3 linked regions of the Homo sapiens genome follow. The protein of the gene in region 3 interacts with the protein of the main gene of each other region in a biochemical or structural test. Each region holds a gene or a part of one and is shown on either strand. Other genes may lie near its edges. The genes, in order: RGP1, RAB33B and RIC1.

Region 1 (6,908 bases), about 30 Mb from region 3:
CCTTCAACCTCTTCCTGTTTCTTAGATGCACTGACCCCTAAACTCCTAACAGCTTGATAGAACTCCTTCCCCACACCTACCTACTAGGACCCTGTGATACACTGATTTTTGATTACTTCATGCTACCTAGACTTGACTGCCTCACTCTTAGGTTATTAGGTACTTAATACTGCTATCTTCAGCTCACATCTGTGGTAGTACCCATTGCTTCAGAAAAACCCTTAATCACAGCTCCCTGCCCTGTGACTTTTCCCTGTCTTCCTGAACACAGATTGTTTTCTTCTCATTCACTAACTATATCCTGTCATTGGCTTTTACTCCTGCTAGCTTCTGATGCTTCTACCTTAATCTTTTTCTTCCATAGTGTCCTTGAAGTGGAGATTGCATTTTGAATTTGTAACGTCCCGAGAACCAGGATTGGTACTCCTACCCCCTGTGGAACAGCCCGAACCTACCACCTGGACAGGACCTGAGCAAGTACCTGTAGACACCTTCAGCTGGGACCTGCCCATCAAGGTGCTGCCTACTAGCCCCACCCTGGCCTCATATGCTGCCCCAGGCCCCAGCACCAGCACCATAACCATCTGAAACTGGCCCACCCTGGTGCTAGTTCCTTCCGGATACTGAGAACTCAGCACCTGGACTCTAATGGGACCCACTTTTTCCACCTGGGGTCCAATGTCGTGGACAGTGAGAGTCGGGCTTTCAGCTATAGCATTAATTTATTTGTTCAGAATACATTGGCAGCTGCTAGTGGTTTCCCTGGAAGTGGCAGCAGCAGTGAGCAGTCAGCAGATGGATGATCAGTTGAGTTTAGCTGGAGTGGGGAGCAGGAGCCCCAGGAACAGGGGTGTTGGCTGAGCCCCATTCTGGGTCAGGCCCTCCCCCTTTGCAGGGCAGCCGAGGGTCAGATTTTTGCACCAAGGAGAACTGGCAGGTTCCTGCCTCCTGACGTACCTCACACCCAGCCGGGAAGTCGATGGGATGCTGGGACCTGGGGAACCAAGGATAGGGGAAGGAGTCAGCACAGTGAAAGGCTGCCTTTATCCCTGCCCACATGTTCCCTCTCTCACAGTTTTCCCCCCACAGAGCCCCTTTCAGTGGCCCCTTGGTCCTCCTAACTAAGCTGTCACCTACCATATGTGGGCCTTTTTGTTTTATAACAGGAGTATTTTCTCTCCAGGTCCACCCCAACCTCCCCTGATTTATAGCCTGAAGCCTTATCTTTCACACTAGTGTTGGTCCCTTCAGGTTTGGCCCATCTTGTATTGCTCTTCTGTTCATTCTTACATCACAGCAATCTAGTCACTCCCTGGTCATCCCTCAGTCACTCATATCAGAGTCATTCTCTCTGGCCATCTTTGGTCACTCACGTGTCACAGCAGCCCACGCCAACAGGATGCAGACAGGTGCAATGGAAACAGTCCTTGCGGAGCCAAGACTCACCCAGGGTAAAATATTTCCCCTCATAGTGACAGGGGGCTAGGGAAGAACGGGAAATGTTAGTAGGTGTAGGAGTGCTGATGAGAGGCAGAGGCTCTTCTGGTCTGGGGTGGAGACAGTAAGTACGCACTATCCCCGTATTTAGTTTGTCTTTCCTGTTTCACAGCTGGAGGAAGCCTGGGTATTTTGACACGGGATCATCTGTAAGGCCCCATCCTCCCTGTGCCCTCTCTGCTGCTCCTCCATTCCTAACGCTTCACCCCACTTTACCTTGAGCTTGGAAGTAGCACTTGCTGTAGACTCCTGGGTGCTGGAGGAGTAGAGACATCACCAAGCAGATGATCCCCCAGCCTCCTAGGATCCCCTTGGCCTGTCCAGCCCAGAGCATCCTTAGGGCCATTGCTGCTGCACAGCCCTCTCAGACCCTTCTTGGCCTCTGCTCAGCTACTCTGGTCTTGACTCCTTGACTTTGCTTTGCGTTGCTCCTTGAGTCTTAGTTTCTGTCTTTCTCCCCTGGGCTCCTGTCTCACACTATCTCCCTGCCCTCTGCTCTCACAGGCTGGGGATGTTTATAAAGTGAGGACCCTGGCCCCCTGCTGAGTAGAGCTGGAAAAGTTGTAACTCTGTTTCCTGAGGTGAGGGCATGAAAACAAGAGGTCTAGCTTTAACAAGCTGTGAGAGCTGATTCATGCCCCGGCACAGCTAGAGGGAGGGAGGTGGCCATGGAGGGGGCACTGGACTGGGCACTTCCCCAGCAAGGAGGCAGGAGGGGCGAGGGCCCCCAGGTGGTCCCCAGATCTCTTCCCTGACCTGGAGAGAAGGAAGCATTCCACCTTCCCCCTTTCTCCCCCACTGCCACCACCAGGGGTGTGTATGCTGGGATCCCTGCCTGGACCGGAGGGAGGCATTTCCTGGGGATGGTTAATCCTGTGCCCCAGCCAAACCCAGGAGCTGCAATAGGGTGCGACGGCCAGAAGCTCCAGGAGAGTGAGCAGGCACCTGGAGTGGAGACTGTGTTTCCCTCAGATCCTAGGGCAGGGTTTCCCTAATGTATCCAAGAAATAGGGCTGCCCCTCAGAGATGGTGGGGAGGGTCTCTTTTCCTCAGGCATTCCAGAGGTGAACTGTCCATTGCTTATCACCTTCAAACATACAGCAGATGTGGGATCACCCCACATCTGGGGATGGTTCTTTCCCCTTTCAAAGAGGAGCATCTCTAAGTGCCCTGATGGGATGAATCACTCCAGGTTCACAGAGGTGTCCTCTCTTTCCTCCCATATATAATGGAGTGAGGTTTTTAGGAATTTATCATTTGGCATCCTCTGAGTTTCCCACAGGTTCTGGAGGAGCCCAGGATGGATTATTGAGAGCATGGGCTGTAGAGACAGTCTTCTTGGATTCAGATCCTGACTCCACTTAGCTATGTAACCTGGTCAGATTACTTCACCTCTCTGAGCCTGTTTCCTCATCTATAAATTGGGGATAGTAATGCCAACTCATTGGGCTGTTATGAGGATTACTGAGATAATGCGTGCAGTGCTCTTATCACCATCTCTGGTGCGTAAGCGTCAGGAAATAGCAGTTGCTGTGATTGGGGCTAAAGCTCTGAGGCAAAATGGGCGACATTATTTTCTTTGAATGACATTAAGCAGTTTGTGCATAGCTGAGGGCTTCTATTGGGGATGGCTGTCTCCTGGCATAGACCTCTGCACCTTTCACACTCATACTCCTTGTCAGCAGTCCCCAACCTTTTTGGTACCAGGGACCGGTTTTGTGGAAAACAATTTTTCCACCAGTGGATGGAGGGGGATAGCAGCGGGGAGATGATTTTGGGATGAAACTGTTTCATCTCAGATCATCAGGCATTAGATTCTCATAAGGAGTGTGCAATCTAGATCCCTTGCATGCGGAGTTCACAGTGGGGTTTGCACTCCTGTGAGAATCTAATGCCTCTGCTGATCTGCCAGGAGGAGGAGCTCAGGCGGTAATGCTCACTCGCCTGCCGCCCACCTCCTGCTTTGTGCTCCCGCTTCCTAACAGGCCACAGACTGGTACTGGCCTGTGGCCTGGGGGATGGAGACCCCTAATCCATGTCACCTTTCCCACCTCTTTCAAAAACAGGTACCTCCAGGAACATTTTGGTTTTGGCCCTTGTATTGACTTCTGAATGTCTAGTTTGAGAAACTGTTCCCAATAAGCCTTCTTCCCCCAGATCTGCACCCTCGCCTCTACCCTAGGACAAGATGTCCTTTTCTCATCATCCTGCCAGGCTAACTTTAAGTCTCCTGCTTTTTCTCACTTGGATTTGGATCCATTTCTTCCTATTTCCGCTCATGTGAACTCTCCAGTTCTCCTTTCTCACCACTCTCCTGCTAGCCATCTCTTTGGCACTAAAGGCCCTGGTCAAATTGGATTTCTTTCATTTTTCCACACTTCAAAGACCCATGTTCTAGGTATTCTCCATAGGGATAGTCTCTTTGGCATTTATTTGGTTTTTCTACGTTTTCAGTCCCATTTACTCCAAGACTCACTCCCTGCCACCTAGTGCATCAGATACAGCTACTTCTGGCTGACTTTTCAAGGGGGACCACCCTACCTGTCATCTCTTCACTGTTCAGAAATGACTGTGTCAGTGCACCTCAAACTCCCTTGCTGTCCTTTTCCAAGGAGACAGCTAAGGTGGATGGAGATGCAGAATGGACCTCACGTTCGCCCTAGTCAGGACTGATACCCTTTCCGTTTCAGAGGATTGCCAAGAAAAAACTCACAGTTGAGGCAGGGTGCTCTGAGGTCGGCTGCGGTGTGGGAGGCACGGCCTGGGCCTGCTCTCTGGGCTGGAGCAGGTGGATTCGAAGGCCTGTCTAGCACGAGGGCCCAAAGGTCTTGTCAGTGGCCAGTAGCTCTGCCGCCTTTCCCAGAGAGGGGGTCCAGGGGACATCCTGGAAGGCTGGGCCCTGGGCCACCTTCTGCTCTTGCAAGCTAGAGCCAGCCCAATAGGGGGCGGATGTGAGTGGGGAGCTGGGGCGCATGAAGGTGGGGGTGATGCCGAAGGGGAAGGGATCGCCAGTGGGGATTGGTGCGTGTGCGGAAACGGGGACAGAAGTGAAGGTTCATCGCCTATAACGAAGATGAGGTAGGCATATAGGGGCTTCTGGAAAGCTAGAGGCTGGGCTGAGCCAGGAGTCCTCTCCCAGAAGTTGGGGGGCGGTGCAGAGGTGTGGGTCGAGCCCGCATGCGTGCCTGCTGGGGAGGGGGTGAGTGGTGAGGACCAGGCCCGCTGGGTCCTGGGGGCGCGGTGGCTGGCGCGCAGGTCCCGGAGGGGGCGGCTGGCGCGCACTACACGCTTGGGAACAAGGAAAACATCCGCCGGAGGCCCGGCCGGGCGGCGCTCCAGCCTCGGGGCAGGTGCGCGGAGAGGAAGTGAGAGCATTCCGGCCCCCCCACCCCAACCCCGGCCGCTGGCCCTCTGGTGAGTCACAGCCGACCCCCGCCGCCGGAGGGAGAGGGGAGCTGCGGGCCAGAGCCCCGGAGGGTCTGGAGGAGCCAGGAGGGTTTCTGGGAGCAGAGGGTCACTTAGTGGGCTTCTGTCGTGGTGTCGCTACGGGCGCGAAACGGACACTGAACACAGTCTGACTGTATGGAGGCAGGTGGGGAGGGATCCCCTGGGAGAACTTGGCGGGCCGAGAGCAGACCCCAGGGCAAGGAGGGGCCCCCGAGGGGGAAACCGGGAGTCGGGCAGGTGGCGTAACCCAGAAAGGGAAGGAGAGCCGGATTGATTGGGGTGAGAGAGGAAGGAAGCACGCCAAGTTAGGCCTGGGAGAACTGAGGGACCTGAGGAGGGAGGAGGGAGACCAACACAGGGTGGGAAGGCGGAAATGGCCAAACCCCAGGCATCAGGTCTGTCCAGAGGCTGACGTAGACAGTGAAGGGTGAAGGGTAGGTTTTAGGAGTAGGGGGAGTTATGATTATTTGGTTACATTTTGGGATTATTTGGTCTCACAGGTAGAAGGGAGCCTGCTGGTCTCTGTGTAACGGATGGCTTAAAAGCAAGGTTGTCTGCGTCTTGGATTACTGTCTGCCATTCAGCCTTTGCCAAAAAATTTGGCACTGATCTGCACATTTTTATAGTCATTTAAAATTGTATGACTCTGTCAAATGATTTAAGTAATTTTGGTGGATTTTTAAAAATAAAAAAATAAAAATAGAAAAGTTGCACAATCTAATTCAATATTTGACTTAAAACCAAAAGTGAGGCTCTCAGATTGGTAATATGGTATTCAGCCTTTTTCTTGTTTGGCTTTTGTGCCATTTGCCCCTCACTGACTTGATTGAATTCTTTGTGGCTGATGCCTCAGTTTTTCTGGATCAGTAGTGCTGCACTTCCACTTTTCCTCTCCCTCATTTTACTGTCTTTATTTTTAGCCTTTTTTCTGTGTAGCCCTCTAACCTGCCCTTTATATTTTGAACCAAATAAAACATTTCTTGGAATGGGAGCTTTGGACTACAGTATACAGACAAACAACTCACAATTTTAGCATATGAGGCTACTATCTTCTGTGGATGTGTATGTAATTATACAGTTTCTGTATTTATCCTGTGGCTGATAGAAAAAGTTAAAGCTGTTTAATTCACCATAGTATTTCTACAACACAGCAATTTATTAGTCTGACTTCTCTTCTAAAATCAACTCTAAAATGGTATTTTGTACTTGTCTCAGAGACGAATTCTGCCATGATCCTTATGATCTGTGTTATGTTGGGCCAAAGGTGATTACTTTATAAATTATAAAGATCCCTAAACTCTGCATTGCCTTTGGTCCCAAACAAGCAAATCTGGGTCAATTAATGAAAAAAAAAAGAAAAGAAAAGAAAATGTCTTACTTTGGGCCCTGTTGCACTCTCCCGTGCTGTTTTAGCCCCAGCCCTACTCTATTCCCAGTGGCCTTTGCCTTCATTCCTTCTTTGCTCTGCTGGGCATCTTGAGAGGAAAACTTCACACCGACTTCCTCTACTATAAATTCTCTCCCTCCTCTCAACTCTACACTTCTCTTTGCCAACATACACCACTACTGCTTCACTGATTTTTTTTTTTTAAGCCCACAGTCCTTTCTGGCTCTTTTCCACCTTTAACACTCTTATGTTGAAATCTTCCGTTTTTCCTCCTTTCTCTTTAGTAAGACCTCAGGTTTTTAAAAAAGCTAGGCTTGATTGTTTATTCTGCATGGTCCACTTCTGCCTTCCTTCCTCTTCTATTACCCTTTTCTTATTCTAGACTGTTTTTAAACTCAGTTATGCTTGCTTTCACCAAAGCCTTAACCTTTCCTGTGATTAGAAAAAGATGCTTATGTTTCCATTACTTTTCCTACAAGAAAACGCATTCTCAAATTCATATCCACTTCAAACTCTCCCAACGTTTTGCATCCAGAAGCATAAAGTGGCCATTATTGTGAAGTCCACTGAGTGACCA
Region 2 (7,349 bases), on a different chromosome or scaffold from region 3:
TCTGAAAGGGCACTGTTGTTAAGTCATGCTTTCTGAAAATTTTCTAGTCCATGATTATCAAAACATTTAACGCAATATCTCATTTTTATCAAAGAAATAATGTCTAGAATGGCATTTTACTAGTAAAGTAATAGAGCTTTCCAGCTTTGAGATGAAAAATTAGGAAAAATGTCATTTTAGATCAGGCTACAATTTTCCAAAGACGTAATATGAACATTTCAGCAGCACTCAAGATGTATTACAGGTTAACCAAAAAGCAGCAGAAGCAGCACATAGAATAAAGCTCTTTATATCACTTTTCAGTTTTCGAAAAAAAGGGCACTAAAAAAAATTAAGCTCTGTGGTTTTAAAAAATGCCCAACATAGCTATATCTTTTCCTACTATAGAAACCTCAGAACATGTCTGTAGTCATTTCAACCACAATAAAAATCTCTCTCAAGTCTCACCATTGGTGGCACAAATCAACGGCTAGGGCCTTAGAAGAAAAATGATCTCAGTATTCAAGTCCATATCAATGTAACAAGTTAGGCTAAAGTTCAGTAGAAATAATCTCCCCAAAAAATATCATCTCCTTGCTCTTCCCAACCAGAATTATCAACTCTGTGCTCCCAGATTCGTCATACCTGTGGTTCTGTCTTATTTATCACTGCCAGCACTCACCTCAGTAGTTAGGTAATTGACTTTATACACTGCACATGCTTTATATTTTTTCAATACTATTATCTCTTAAATTTGCACCTGATTCATCTGTTATCTTTAAGTATAAATGGCAACCCAGGAACAGATAAAGGGCCCTCAAATCCCAACTCCTCCCCCACCCTCATTCTCTCCACTTTTGAAAGAATTTCCTACTTCCGTTTTTGTTTTTGTTTTGTTTTTTAAATTTCTCTCCCCTTAGCTGTCTACCTATGCCCTCCACTATCTCTGCTTTCAACTTTGGGTGTACAACTGCAGAACTAATGGTGGCAAACAGGAAAAATAATGTTAAGCCACCAGGAAAGACAAAGAATCTTTTTAAAGGCACCAACTATGAACCAGGTGCTTCATATATGTCCTCATCTGATCCTCACAGCAGCCTGATAAGGTATCATGATCCCAGTTTTTCGGAAGAAAAATACAGACTCTGAGAGGTTAAAGAATCTGCCTAAGGTCCAGGGTGACCAACTATTTTGGTGTGCCCAATACAGGGGGTCCCCGGGATGTGAGACCCAGTTTTAAAACCTGGACAGTCTTGGGCAAAGTTGGTCACCCTAGTAAGGACACGCAGCCCATCCCTACCCTTTCGTAGGTTCAGATATGAATCCAGGTTAGTTGGGCTCCAAAGCCCACGTACTTCCCAGATTCCTGCTTCTCCCAATCTTAACTCCCTTGGAACTTCAGAAGCTCCATTATTTTTCACCCCAAAGGCTTCTGGGCCAAACCTAATTCTGGTGAAAAATGTTTAGCCTTTTATTCTATCTTTTCTTCTGCAAGTATACAAATCTTTCTAAATTCCCTAATACAAAGCAACTCCAAAACCACCACTGAGAGCTCATATGGGACATGAAATACTAATGTGAAAAATTAAAAGACAGAAGCACCAAAGAAAGGTTAATTTCTTTTAACCCAGCTTACTTCACCTCTACCATCATTAGCAGTATAACCCGTTGGGGTGGGGGGCGATGATTAGGGAACTGAAAAATAAATTGTTCTTGCCTCTAAGATACGAGGGTAGGAACGTCTAAAGCAAGCCTGTTCTCCCACCACTCCCCATCCCCACCAAGAGACTGAGATAAAGACGATCGCTGATTTAAAGCAGTAGTATAAGGCAAGGTGGTTCCACCTATGTTTTAAGGAGTGGCATCAACAGGTGGCATTTAGTGGTGGCTTGCTATGAAGGTGTGTCTAAGGTTTATACCATCAAGAGGCCTAAGCCTTGTCATTGATCCTCATTCCACTGTTAGATTCCAACCCCTCAGAACTTCAAACCTGCCCTGGGGCCTATACTACCTTCTCCACTATTACTGTCACTCAGTGTCCCCAGTCCCAGGGACCAAAAATAACGACTTAAAGGGAATAAAGAATTGGGCGTGTGTCTGAGGTGGCATCATGAGAAATGCTTTTGGCAACCTGAGTAGGAACTATCACATATAGAATGTTTCTGCAGGAAAATAGATTTTTCTAAAATCAGTATCATAAAGAAACTACTACAGCAAAACTGTATGCAAGAGAATACCTAAGTACTTCCTCAAAGGCAATAGGCTTTACTTCCACAACATCTAAGGCACTGCTCGAATGAATGTTTAATAACTATTACTGATTAAATGAATTTTCCATTCTCGCGCAATTTCACTGTTTTTCCTCCGTTCATATTTGACTGACTCCCAGCACACGACACACACAGTAAATGGGTCGGTAGATAAGCCCTACACTCCTGAACTCAAAGTGTGGTCCACGGACTAGCTGCACCTGCATCATCAGCGAGATTATTAAATCATAGCCTGCATTTTCAAAAACAAGATCCCCAGGTAAATCGCATGCACAATGAAGTCTGAGAAACGCTGCCTTAGAAGTTTGCAGTATTGCAATCCTTCCAATCCCCAACTCCAATCTCATCAGCGTGAGAAAAAAATGGAGCGCACACACACCGTGCACACGGCCAGCGACCAGCCCACGGTGGGGTTGGGACACCTGTCACCCTGTCCTCCCCAACAGTTCCCCATCCGCTCACCTTGATGCGCTCCCCATCAATCTCCACCGCTCGTTCTCGGAAATCCACCCCTATCGTGGCCTCGGTGCGGTCGGGGAAGCGGCCAGCGCAGAAGCGGTAGGTCAGGCATGTCTTGCCCACATTGGAGTCGCCGATCACGATTATCTTGAAGATGCGGGAGCGGGCAGGAGGCAAAAACCCTGAGGCCCCTGACACTGCCCCGCTGGACGAAAAGCTTGCCTCGAGCGACGACTCCATCTCCTCAGCCATTCCCCCGACCCGCCCCAAACTGAGGCGGAGGAAAGGAGACACAGAAAGGCTGAGAGATTACGCCACCGCAAGAGCGCGCGCCCAGCCGGCCAGTTCGGCTGCGCAACTTCCCAGGAGCCACCGCCCACCAGCCCCGAGCGCGCCTGCGCACCTTCCCGCCCCGCCCTTGCCCGCACAGGTGTGGCACCCGCCCGCCCCGCCGCACGGAGCCGCCTGCCCGCGGCCACACGCCAGGCGTCACTCGGGCTGGCGCCGGTCTACCTAGGCAGGCGTGGGACCTGTCGGGGGCTTCACGGCAGCGCGGAAGGCCAGCCTGCAGAGAGGCTGGGCCCAGCGCCCTGACTGACCCAGCCCCGCCACGTCCAAGGTTCCCGCCCTCTGGAGGAAGCCGCGCAATCACTCCGGGGGCGGGGAGAGACAGACAACTGAGAGGAAGGAGGTACCACGGGCACTCTCTCGCGAGAGGGCCGCAGAGCCGCCTTTGACGGGGGCGTGTACCTGGAGAGCAACGGTAAGGACGGAGCCGACGGCTCCGGCGTCGGGTCGGTTCCGGCATCGACGTATCGTTTGGTCGCCCCAGAGAGGAGACAGGTTTCTTCAGCTTGCCGCTGAGGATGTGGCATCGGCTGCGCTCACCGCCGCCGCCTCTGTGAACTGCGGGAGTTGGGACAGCGGCCAGGGCTAGATGGGTGGGACGCGAGTCCTCGCCGAAAGCTTGCCCTGTGCGGGGCGCACTTGGAGGCGAGCTCTGGGCCGTGGCGAGTTTTGCAGCCTAAGGTCTTGGCAGGCGCATTGCTGTGGGCTGCCGGAGAGCAGGCTGGAGTTCGAGACCGCCCACCGGAGAGCAGGCGAGAGTTCGAGGCCTAGGTACAGCGCATTTCGCTAGGCATCCCCAAGAATATCCGCGTGATCCTTGTGGCCAGAGTTTGTTGAGCTAATATCCCCAGCCCAAACAGTAGAGCACATCACATGTCGGCCACCTGGGAGCGTTGAACCTGGTAGTTACTAGGCGCCCCTGGTGGAAATAAAACTCATTATGCCCTAGTTATGTCTTAGTGCCTGGGTGACGATGATGTAGCGGTTAAAGATTAACTGAGCGCACTTAGAGGTTGTCTTTGTCTACCTAAGGAAAATATCAATAGATTAAACCCCCAACCTTAAAGAATCTCCGTGAATTTTTCTGAGGAAACGTGCAATATTGTCATACAAAAGGCCCCAAATATGCAAACATTGCTTTTTGTTAAAAGTTTGTTTTGTTTTGCAGTGACATCTGTTTGAGCAGATGAATATGCCATTGGGAAAGTCAAGGACTGTCGGAGAGGAGGACATGGCAGACCTTAACTAAAGTGAGGGGGACAGTAGAGCACTAAAAGTTCTAGGAAAGGAGATGAACTGCTTATTCCATCAGATGAAAATATAGTCAGAACAGATGAGTAGTAGAACTTAAACATGCCCGGAGTTGCCAGGAATTTGCAAAAGCCTTGATATAATTCCTGTTGCTGTAGAAAGACTTTCTACAGTCACTAATATATCAAGTTATGTTCACTAGAAAAAAAGTTTACTTAGTTTATAGAAATGGGCTGAAAAATCCTAATTACTTATCTGTGAGGTTATTTTCATGAAGGTTAATCATCCAGAAACTATTAGAGAGCCTCGGAATATATTTCTTCTAATCTGCTCTACCTATCCCATTCAAAGGAGGGAATCTGAAGATTTAAGGACAAAGAGCAGTTGAAAACTCAGAGCTGTGGTTAATGGGAGAATTTCAAGGATGGTGAAAAAAACTAACATCATTGCATCCCTGTTTTTTGTATTCTGGACTTTTTAGTTTAGCTCTTGGTAAACTACATCAGAAATTCTTTATGCTAACTCTAACACACATTTTGGGGTATTGCTAATTTAATCTTTGAATACTGTTTTTGCTGTTTCATGATTATATGTTATGTCCTACCAGCTAGATTGCCAACTCTTGACTACTGACTGGAAGTTTATTGTTTATTCAGCAAATAATGAATTAAGTCAGTGAAGTGAGAGATTTCGTGTGTAAGGATTGTTAACTTGAACATTTCACCAGTTACACACAGTTCAGCCCTACTTAAATTTTAAAAATCATTGTTGGCACTTGACATTGTTATGAGGAGTTTTGTATTTTCAACTTGTATTTTGAGAGTGTCCTCATGTGACTGAAGTATGTGCTACTCTTCTTAATTGAATAACCCCAGAATCTCCAGAATTGATAATTGGAGGAAATTCTACTGTTGGAAAGAATGGATGGATTATACAGCCCTGTTTTTTGACTGTTCATTTTGTCCTTGGAGTCACTACCACTTGGCCTCAAAGTGTGAACATGTAACCCTTTCCTTAATACTTTGCTACACAGCTGAGCAGAAACTGTAAATTTGGATCCTTTGTCAGTACAACTTAAAATGGAACAATTTCAATGGCTTAGGGTAAGATAAGTATGTAAAGATACTTTTGTAATAGAAGAAAAAACATTGGATATTAAAATCACACAGTAGTACCTGGGTGTGGTGGCTCATGCCTATAATCCCAACGCTTTGGGAGGCCAAGACAGGAGCACTGCTGGAGGCCAGGAATTTGAGACCAGCCTGGCCAACATGGTGAAACCTCGTCTCTACCAAAAAATACAAAAATCAGCCAGGTGTGGTGGCACATGCCTGTAATCCCGGATACTCGGGAGGCTGAGGTGGGAGAATCGCTTGAACCAGGGAGGTGGAGGTTGCAGTGAGCTGAAATCGCAAAACTGCACTCCAACCTGGGCAACAGAGTGAGACCTCCTGTCTCCAAAAAAAAAAAAAAAAAAAAAAAAAAGTGGGTGTGGTTGTGTACACCTCTACTTCCTGCTACTCAGGAGGCTGAGGCTGGAGGATCTCTTGAGCCCAGGAGTTCAAGTCTGCAGTGAGCTATAGTTGCACTGCTGCACTCCAGCCTGGGTAGCACAGCGAGACCCCCATCTCTAAAACATAAAAGTAAACAGGCTGGGTGCAGTGGCTTACACCTGTAATCCCAGCACTTTGGGAGGCCGAGGAGGGTGGATCATGAGGTCAAGAGTTGAGACCAGCCTGGCCAACGTGGCGAAACCCCATCTGTACTAAAAATACAAAAATTAGCCAGTCGTGGTGCCAGGTGCCTTTAATCCCAGCTATTCAGGAGGCTGAGACAGGAGAATCGCTTGAACCTGGGAGACAGAGGTTGCAGTGAGCCAAGATCATGCCATTGCACTTCAGCCTCGGGGACAAGAACAAGACTGTGTCTCAAAAAAAAAAAAAAAAGTAGAAAACAGAATAGCATAAGGATAATCTTATATACAAAATAAGACTACTCAATTTCTGAATTTTTTTTTTAACTAGATATGCCACCTCCTGATGACAGTGCCCATTTCGTAACTTGTCTTACTCAGAAACAGCTCTTAGATAATTTTACTCTTTAAGTTCAGGTCTGAGCACAGAGGACAAAGAATTCCCTTGATTGCCTATGAAAGAAAGGATTCTCAACCTTGGCACTATTGACATTTTAAGTCAGATAATTCTTTGTTGTGGAAGGTTATCCTGTGCATTGTAGGATGTTTATTTTATCAGCATCCCTGGCTTCTACCCAGTAAATCCCAGTAGCACCCCACCACCAACCAAAACTGTCTCAAAATGTTGCTAGATGCCCCTTGGGGACAAAAATCCTCTCCCTCCCTCCTCCTTGAATGCCACTGGCACTCCTTGAGCCTACAGAAGGGCTCTTCTCACAAGTTTGATACCCTGTACCTCCCAGTTGATAGTGGGAATTACTTCTCCTTTGAAGACACAATTCCAGTTACCCTGAGAAGTATGGCATTGGCCTTGCTGGCCTCCACCAAATTACTATATCACTGTGTTTGGTAACCCCAGACATCATACTAGGGCTTTAATTTCAGTATATAAATAGTAAATTAGTATCCTTGTATAGGTTAGCTTAATGAGTTTCAGAATTCTTCAAGTCATATCTTCATAGGTAGGATCACTGTGGAGTTAATGGCATTTGAACTATGTACTCAGTACTATGCTAGTGGTTGGTGCAAGGGGAAGATACAAAATAAGGTGTGATTTTAGCCCATGAGGAATTTATACTTTATCTGCAGAAGCAAATTAATATGGAACCGTTAGTGAACACCTGGATAAAACAGAATGCTAAATTTTACCCTAGAGGTGCTTGGCCTGGACTTCAAGAATTCTAAGTGAATTGAAGTATGTTCACAGTAAGAAAGGTTAAAAATGGCTCTGCCCACTTGTAGGCAGATGGGAAGCTAGGATGGCAGACTTGCCAATATTTGATATATGTAAAAAGTGCAATCATGGCCTCTGTTGTTTCCTCTTTTATCTCGTTCTCTTTATTAGTCCA
Region 3 (7,109 bases):
AGATAGGCATATCATTTGTATTTTACAAGTGAGGAAACTGAGTTAAGTAAATTGTTGAAGATCAGCAGAAAAGGAAGAAAAAAAAGGGAGGTTTGCCTGACTCCAAAATAGGTCAGGTCTGTCTCCTGTTGCAGAGTTTTCTGAGGATGTGACTAGAATCTTTGCTTTGGGCAATAGCAAGTAGTAAAGTTCTGCTGCACATTCAGAATCCTCCATTTTTCTTTCACAAATTTAACCTGCCTATCTTGGTCTTTATGGAAAGGTGCCTAATAGACAACTGTAATTGTAATTATTATCTGCCAATCCATAGCAACTTAGGAATTCTGTTGCAGAAAAAAATTACATTGTCAGGGAGATACAGTGAAGTTGCAGGGAGTGACCCGGAACCAAAAAACAGCTGCATTTATTTTGATTCTATTTTTAAAACCCTATGTCTTTTTCTTTAGGGTTAGCCATGGAATCATACTTCAAGGCCACCTGGCCTCTGCTTGAGTGTCTCCTCTGGTTTCAGTTCATTGTCATGAAGCAAAGAAGCTGACAGGAAATCTGCTTCAGGCAGAGATTGAAACCAGGTTTATGGTTAGCTTCTTACATCAATGGAAACAACTTTGCAGTAACTGGAAAGAATCTTTAAGTGTAGCCTATCAAATAACCAACTGTCAAGCCCTTTTGTCAAATAGCTAATGAAATAAATTTTCAGGAGTTGCAAAGAAGCCATTATTTTGAGAAAAACTGTGTGCTATGAGGGTCTTTGCTGTGGCAGGCCTGAGCCTTCTCAGCTTGCTTTGGGGAAGACTAGCTCAAGGTGCTCTGTTATGACCATGCTCTAATAAGTGTCCCCTCAGTAACCCACACTGAAAGGAAACAAATCTACTGTTGTGAGAAGCTCAAACTCACTAATATCTCAAATAATACTTTCTTTGCTATGTTTCTTATGTAATATTTCAATAATCTTATGTAATATTTCTTCCATGTTCCTATTACATGTATTCTAATATACATATTAAATTTCTTCAATATATTAAAATTTCAAAACACTACTCTGAACTCATTAATCTGTTTTAGGCCTATTTATGGACAATGGAAAAAATATCTCTGCAATGTTACTTTATGATATTCAAAGGAATCTGTCTGAATTCTTCCAAATTAAAGATATAAACAGAAAATTTGACTATGAATTCCTTAAACACAATCATGGTGTCAAAACAGGACATTTCTATTTTTCTAAGTTTAAGCTCATTAATTCTTGCCCCTTTATAAGAAGAGAATTGTTACCTGTAAGATAATAAGGTAAGAGGCAGCTGTGTCCAAATCCTGAGCCATCAAACACTCCTCAAACAAGTCCTTAGGGTTTCCAACAGCTGCAAAAAGGTAATTCCACAGGGCATATTCGGTCTTCCTGGCACAATGGACAACTGTCTGCAGGAAGAGGGGGAACTCAGTGATAAATTTTGCCACAGTGGGAAGCAGAGGGTCGGGAATGGGCTCCCGTGAGGTAGCTTCTTCTTCCAGTACTTCATGGAGCATGAGCTCCAGCACATGAGGGAAGTAAGGTAATGTGGCACAGGACTGGGCCAAGAGCAAGGCTTGCTCCCCAAGGTTTCTGACCAGAAGTTGACGTAGAATGTGGTGGAGGTAGATCTGAGAGGTTCTCTCCACAACACAGAAAGGGAAGAGCACCTCCAGCTGTTCTCTAGCATTGTTCCGAGTATATAAAGAATCATAGAGCAAAGTGTCATTGACAGCACCAAGGACTAAAGCATCTTCAAACAGAACAGCTAGCGGGTAAATGTTGATGTGGAAAGGCAGCATGATCCGCTGGGACAAGAAGGAATGGGGCTTGCGGTGATCCCTAGGGAAGAGAGGGAGCCAAACTTTCATCCCTGCACCACCACAGCTCAGCCAGAGGGCCTCCAGAAGGTGACGTTTCTGTTTATTTGCTCGACACGTTGTCCAGACATTTTCAACAGACTGGGCTAGTACAACAGGAGGACAGAATGGCAGCTGGAGAAGGAGAGACAAGAATCAAGTTGTTTTCCTATTAAATCTGCAGGTTCTTAAGTTCCTAGGTACTAGTTTACTAAGTCTTTCAAATGATAGTATAATATTTTTTTGGGAAAAGCAAAGGGATCTAATTAGAATTAGAGTTAATAAAAGTATCCTGGCCTTTTAAAGTATATACACTTAAATCTGAAAACAAAACACCCCATGAACTTCACCAGTCTATCCCTATTTTTTCCATTAGAATTTGCAATGAATGATGCCTAAGCAGTTAACATATGGAGTATGGAACATTTCATGATCATTTTGGGACCTTATCCTCCAGTCAGTCAGTCTTACACCCAGAGGCTTAAGACTGATTTTATGGACTTAATTTCTCCTTTCCAAATCATAAAATACTCTTCTCTTAAATTGTTTCATTCCTTCATCCTCATCCCATACCTTCTTAATGTTTGAAAAGAAATGACTAGTACTTTACTCACAAGTTTCCTTTGGTTATTAGGGTTACTGTCCTTCTCCCGGATCTGTGGGCCTGACCTGTCCCTCTGCATCATGATGAGCTGTCCTGCCAGGTTTAACATAATGCTCTCTGCACCACGAGCCTGAAATTTAAGAAAAAGCAGCTAAATTCATACTTCTGTATCGGTATGCTTTCCGCATCTCCCCCCAATCCATAAGGTTTATAGGTCAAACAATCTACATTATTTATTGAGGTTGTACTATGTACAGCCATTCTGCTAGGCTCTGTGGGAATATAAGGAGCTTTCTGGCTAGGATGGTACAAAGCCTAACACATAATGCAATTAATGAACACCACCAGTGACATAAGATTGAGGGCAGAGTTGAATTATCCTGAAAAAGCTAAGACAACTTTAGAAGTTTATAAAAATGAGAGATCACTTCAGTGATCTAGCTGTCATAACAACAGAAAGTTTAAAAGGATGCAGTGAACCTGACAGATGAGGAAGACATACACGTGTGGGAGAGTAAGGGTTGGTAATCTAATGGAAAACGAAGACATGGAACTATTGGGAAAGTGAGAACAGTCTGGCTAGACTAGGGACATTATGAGAACAAAGCTGGATGGTAACAGACCTTCAAGGAGGATTCAGAAAGCCAGGTAAAAGAGCAGCAGGAAAGAAGCCACTACTTATGGTTCTTGAATAAGACAGTTATTTAAAAAATCAGAGTTAATCAGGATAGGTTACTGAGGAGAGGCAGATTTCATGGGTGTTGACTTCAGAAATGAGGAAATAGTCTGCCTTTTTATAATGAAAAATTTCAATCAAACCTCAGAGAGCCTAGTATAATGATTTCCAATTGAGCCCTATCACGCAACTTAAACCATTATGCACATTAAACTTTGAGCAGCCCTGTTTTAAAAGGAACCTCAGATATCAAGTCATTTCTATCTGTAAAGAGGAAGGAACATTTTGGTTAAAAAACAGAACTTACTGCTATCCTAGACATGAAAGGTAGAAAAAGAGATGAACCAAAGATGATTTCCAGGTTAGCTGAGGTGCTAGAGAAGTTGAAGTTATTATCACTGATAGAAGACAGGAAGAGAAATTAGGGAAGGGAAAACCAAAGAGTTTCCCTTTTTCTTTTTGGCTCATTTAATTTGAAAAAATAAAAAAAAATTCTTAAGAATTCCAAGTAAAAATGTGAGCAATCACTAAATCAGAGACGACTGTACCAGCATCAGAAGCTTAAAGGTGAGGCTGGGCCAGGCTGGGCGCAGTGGCTCACACCTGTAATCCCAGCATTTGGTGGGAGGCTGAGGTGGGTGGATCACGAGGTCAGGAGTTCAAGACCAACCTGGCCAAAATGGTGAAACCCCGTCTCTACTAAAAACACAAAAATAAGCCGGGCGTGGTGGCAGGTGCCTGTAATCCCAGCTACTTGGGAGGCTGAGGCAGGAGAATCACTTGAACCCGGGAGACGGAGGCTGCAGTGAGCCAAGATTGCACCATTGCACTCTAGCCTGGGTGACAGAGCAAGACTCCGTCTCAAAAAAAAAAAAAAAAAAAAAAAAAAAGGTGAGGCTGGTAAACTGAAGGAGACAGACAGATGTTTCTCAGGCACACTAGCCAGGGTAAAAAGAGCAGCGGGCCATCACCTGAGCTTTTGGAAGACAAAAGAGAAATAGGGAAGCACAATGCTATACATGCTATATAAACAGAAGGAAAGAATTTCAGGGAGGAAAGAGTGAGTATTCAAAACTTGTGGGATTGTGTCCCAGGCTTTGCTGCATGCTGGCTGGCTGAATTTAAGCTACCAATGATCATTTAGGGTTCATCAAGAAAACAGCAGCCACCCTATATATTCTAGTTGCAAAATACTTGGCTATACAAACTACTCTTGCTTACTGCTTTCAGATTCTACAGGGGATTATGTATAAAGAAATGACTAAATAAAAAAATTGGTTATCTATCCAGAAAGTAATTTGGAGGTATGAGAAGTGAACATGGAATTTAGGTGTGTGGCAACTAGAAGAGTCAGACACCTGGATAACAGTAAAATGTAGCTAGATGGCAGAGGAAAAAGAAAAAGACAAACACCTGCAGCAAAACAGCATGACTGGGAACTGCATACACTAAAACACTTCAAAAGACCTTAAAGGCATTTACTGTAATTCACCACAATATGAGTAATGTTTATAATGACTACCTTAAGTTTTAAGATGGTAGATTTCACCACATTTCATACTAATTCATTAAAAAAGTACACTTCTCTTTTCTTCAGTGAGTGGGTATTATCAGTATCCTATCTTAGTATTCAACACTTTCTGATAACGTTAAAGATGACTGCAACAGCACTCTCAAGCAACTTTAATAAAGCTTTCAGAAAAAGCAAGGGCTACATGTATGCCCAAAATCCTAAATTTGAAGGAACCCCAAACTCAATCTCTTACCCTAAAAAAACCCCTGGCAGATGATTCTCTATGAGAGTTTCAGTAACAAGGAGCTCACTCTCATGGAGAGACTATCTTGCTGTTGAAGAGTTTTCACTGTTACTACTATTTTTTTTGAAAACTTTAGTATTAAATGAAAACTTACTTTGCTCCAGCATTCTTTGTCTTCCCTCTATGGTAATCAGTCAATTTTAACTTCTTAATCTGCTCTAGCCAAATTAAGCACCTTCTCTTTGTGAAAGGCCCTCTCAAAATATGGTATCCAGGACTACTGATGCCACTGGTTGCCTACTCTATCTGGGATATATAAGAGTCCTTTTTTAAATATGAAAACTTTAAACATGATTAAAAGTATGGAGAATAGTATAATGAACTTTCACACTGCCATTATCCAGATTCACAATTATCAAGATTTTGCCTTATGTGCTCCATCCATCCCTTATTTTTTTTTCAGTTTTGTCAGAATATTTTCAATTAAGACATGCTACCCATTTTACTTCTACATGTTTAATATGCATTCCTAAAATATATGGGCATCTGCTAACATAGCTACAATGCTAGTATCACATCCAATAAAATTTACAATTATTCCCTACTTTCTCTCTCCATTAGTATTTAAATATCCCTAATTGTTTCAACAGTGTCTTTTCATAGCTGATTTGAATGAAGATACAAATGAGCTTACTGACTTGGTTCTGCAGGGTAGTGATTATCACATTTGCCTCACAAATGACTTTTAACCACTGCATTTGGTTTTTATGGCTTCAAAGTCTTATTTAATCTAGAAGATTCACTCCTTCTTCCCCCATGTTAGTGACTTGTAGCTGTCCAACAGAATGTCTTGTATTCTGCTCCCTTGTGGTAGGGAAGATGACTCTCTATACTTGATTTGATTTGGGTTCAAGATTTTTGGCAATAATTCTTGTGAACTTCATGTTATATCACCTCAAGAAGCATACCATATCTGGTTTTCCCATTTTTAGTGATAAGACTGATTAGTTCCTCAGGACTGCAAAATGATTTTTAAATTGTCACTTTTTTTCACACCTTTTATCTAAACTTCTGTAAAACAGTATATTCCCTTATCAATTAGGACTAACTGGTTACCATTAAATAAGGTTTGCAGAGGAAATGGGAACTATATTTTAAAGGAGAAAACCAATTTTACCTATAGAAGGGAGACCAAGGCCGAGCACGATGGCTCACGCCCTTAATCCCAGCACTTTGGGAGGCCGAGGTGGGCAGATCATGAGGTCAAGAGATTGAGACCATCCTGGCCAACATGGTGAAACCCTGTCTCTACTAAATATACAAAAATTAGCTGGGCGTGGTGGCGTGCACCTGCAGTCCCAGCTAGTTGGGAGGCTGAGGCGGGAGAATTGCTTGAGCCTGGGAGGCAGAGGTTGCACTGAGCCAAGATTGCACCACTGCACTCCAGCCTGGCGATAGAGTGAGACTCCATCTCAAAAAAAAAAAGAAAAAAGGACAAAAAAAAAAAAAAAAAAAGAAGGGAGACCAAGATGCTTAAGGGGTCTAGAATAAACATCCAATGAAATAGTTGGACATATGGAAGTATTTAGCATGCAGATAAGATGACAGAGAGGTTTGAGGAGAGAAGGAGAAGCCAAGGAATGTTAACTGTCTGCAGATATTTTACGGGTCATCATGTGGAAGAGGGACTAGCTTTTACAATGTCTTCTACAAAGAATAGAGAACTGGGATAGAAGGTAACAAAATTGATTTTAGATTCATATAAGTAATATTAAATTCCCCATAACTGGATAGTCTAGTCTAGTCTGTTTTCTAATTATTTTATGGAGTGTTGAGGTTTGATCGAAGTGCCTCGATAGGAAGTAAAAGACAGACTGCCCAGACAGGGATGACAAATAAATCCACATAGAATTTTCCTCTGACAGTAGGTTCCCAGTTGACATGAAGTTTAGAAACCACTGAAATAGAAAGTTATGCAACGTGGGTCCTGGTCGCCCTACTTCTTACCCTGTTACTTTACCCAGAAACTACGGGATTATACTTTCTCTTTCCTCATAATTAACTAATTATAAAGCCCTTGCTATTCTATACTCATTCTACTTCTTTCCATATCCTTTTTCACTGCCCAAGTTCAGACTGTGAACACCACTGACCTAGATCATTACAATGACCTCCCAGTTGCTCTCCCTACAGTAGTTTTGTC

The links.
Region 1: the proteins of RIC1 (region 3) and RGP1 form a complex in vitro, tested with the Homo sapiens proteins (one study listed by IntAct).
Region 2: the proteins of RIC1 (region 3) and RAB33B form a complex in vitro, tested with the Homo sapiens proteins (one study listed by IntAct).

What each region holds. Positions count from the first base shown.
Region 1 is NC_000009.12:35,752,287-35,759,194, forward strand, and holds the end of RGP1 (RAB6A-GEF complex partner protein 2), read left to right. Parts: intron 1-364; coding exon 365-588; 3' UTR 589-813; coding exon of another isoform or gene 814-994; 3' UTR 995-1,373; coding exon of another isoform or gene 1,374-1,482; 3' UTR 1,483-1,713; coding exon of another isoform or gene 1,714-1,843; 3' UTR 1,844-6,299; downstream 6,300-6,908. Other genes in the region: MSMP (prostate-associated microseminoprotein precursor), read right to left, coding at 814-994, 1,374-1,482, 1,714-1,843. UniProt on the Homo sapiens protein: The RIC1-RGP1 complex acts as a guanine nucleotide exchange factor (GEF), which activates RAB6A by exchanging bound GDP for free GTP and may thereby required for efficient fusion of endosome-derived vesicles with the Golgi compartment.
Region 2 is NC_000004.12:139,449,807-139,457,155, reverse strand, and holds the start of RAB33B (ras-related protein Rab-33B), read right to left. Parts: upstream 3,036-7,349; 5' UTR 2,980-3,035; coding exon of another isoform or gene 2,961-2,979; coding exon 2,712-2,960; intron 1-2,711. UniProt on the Homo sapiens protein: The small GTPases Rab are key regulators of intracellular membrane trafficking, from the formation of transport vesicles to their fusion with membranes.
Region 3 is NC_000009.12:5,758,035-5,765,143, reverse strand, and holds part of RIC1 (guanine nucleotide exchange factor subunit RIC1), read right to left. Parts: intron 2,604-7,109; coding exon 2,484-2,603; intron 2,005-2,483; coding exon 1,276-2,004; intron 1-1,275. UniProt on the Homo sapiens protein: The RIC1-RGP1 complex acts as a guanine nucleotide exchange factor (GEF), which activates RAB6A by exchanging bound GDP for free GTP, and may thereby be required for efficient fusion of endosome-derived vesicles with the Golgi compartment.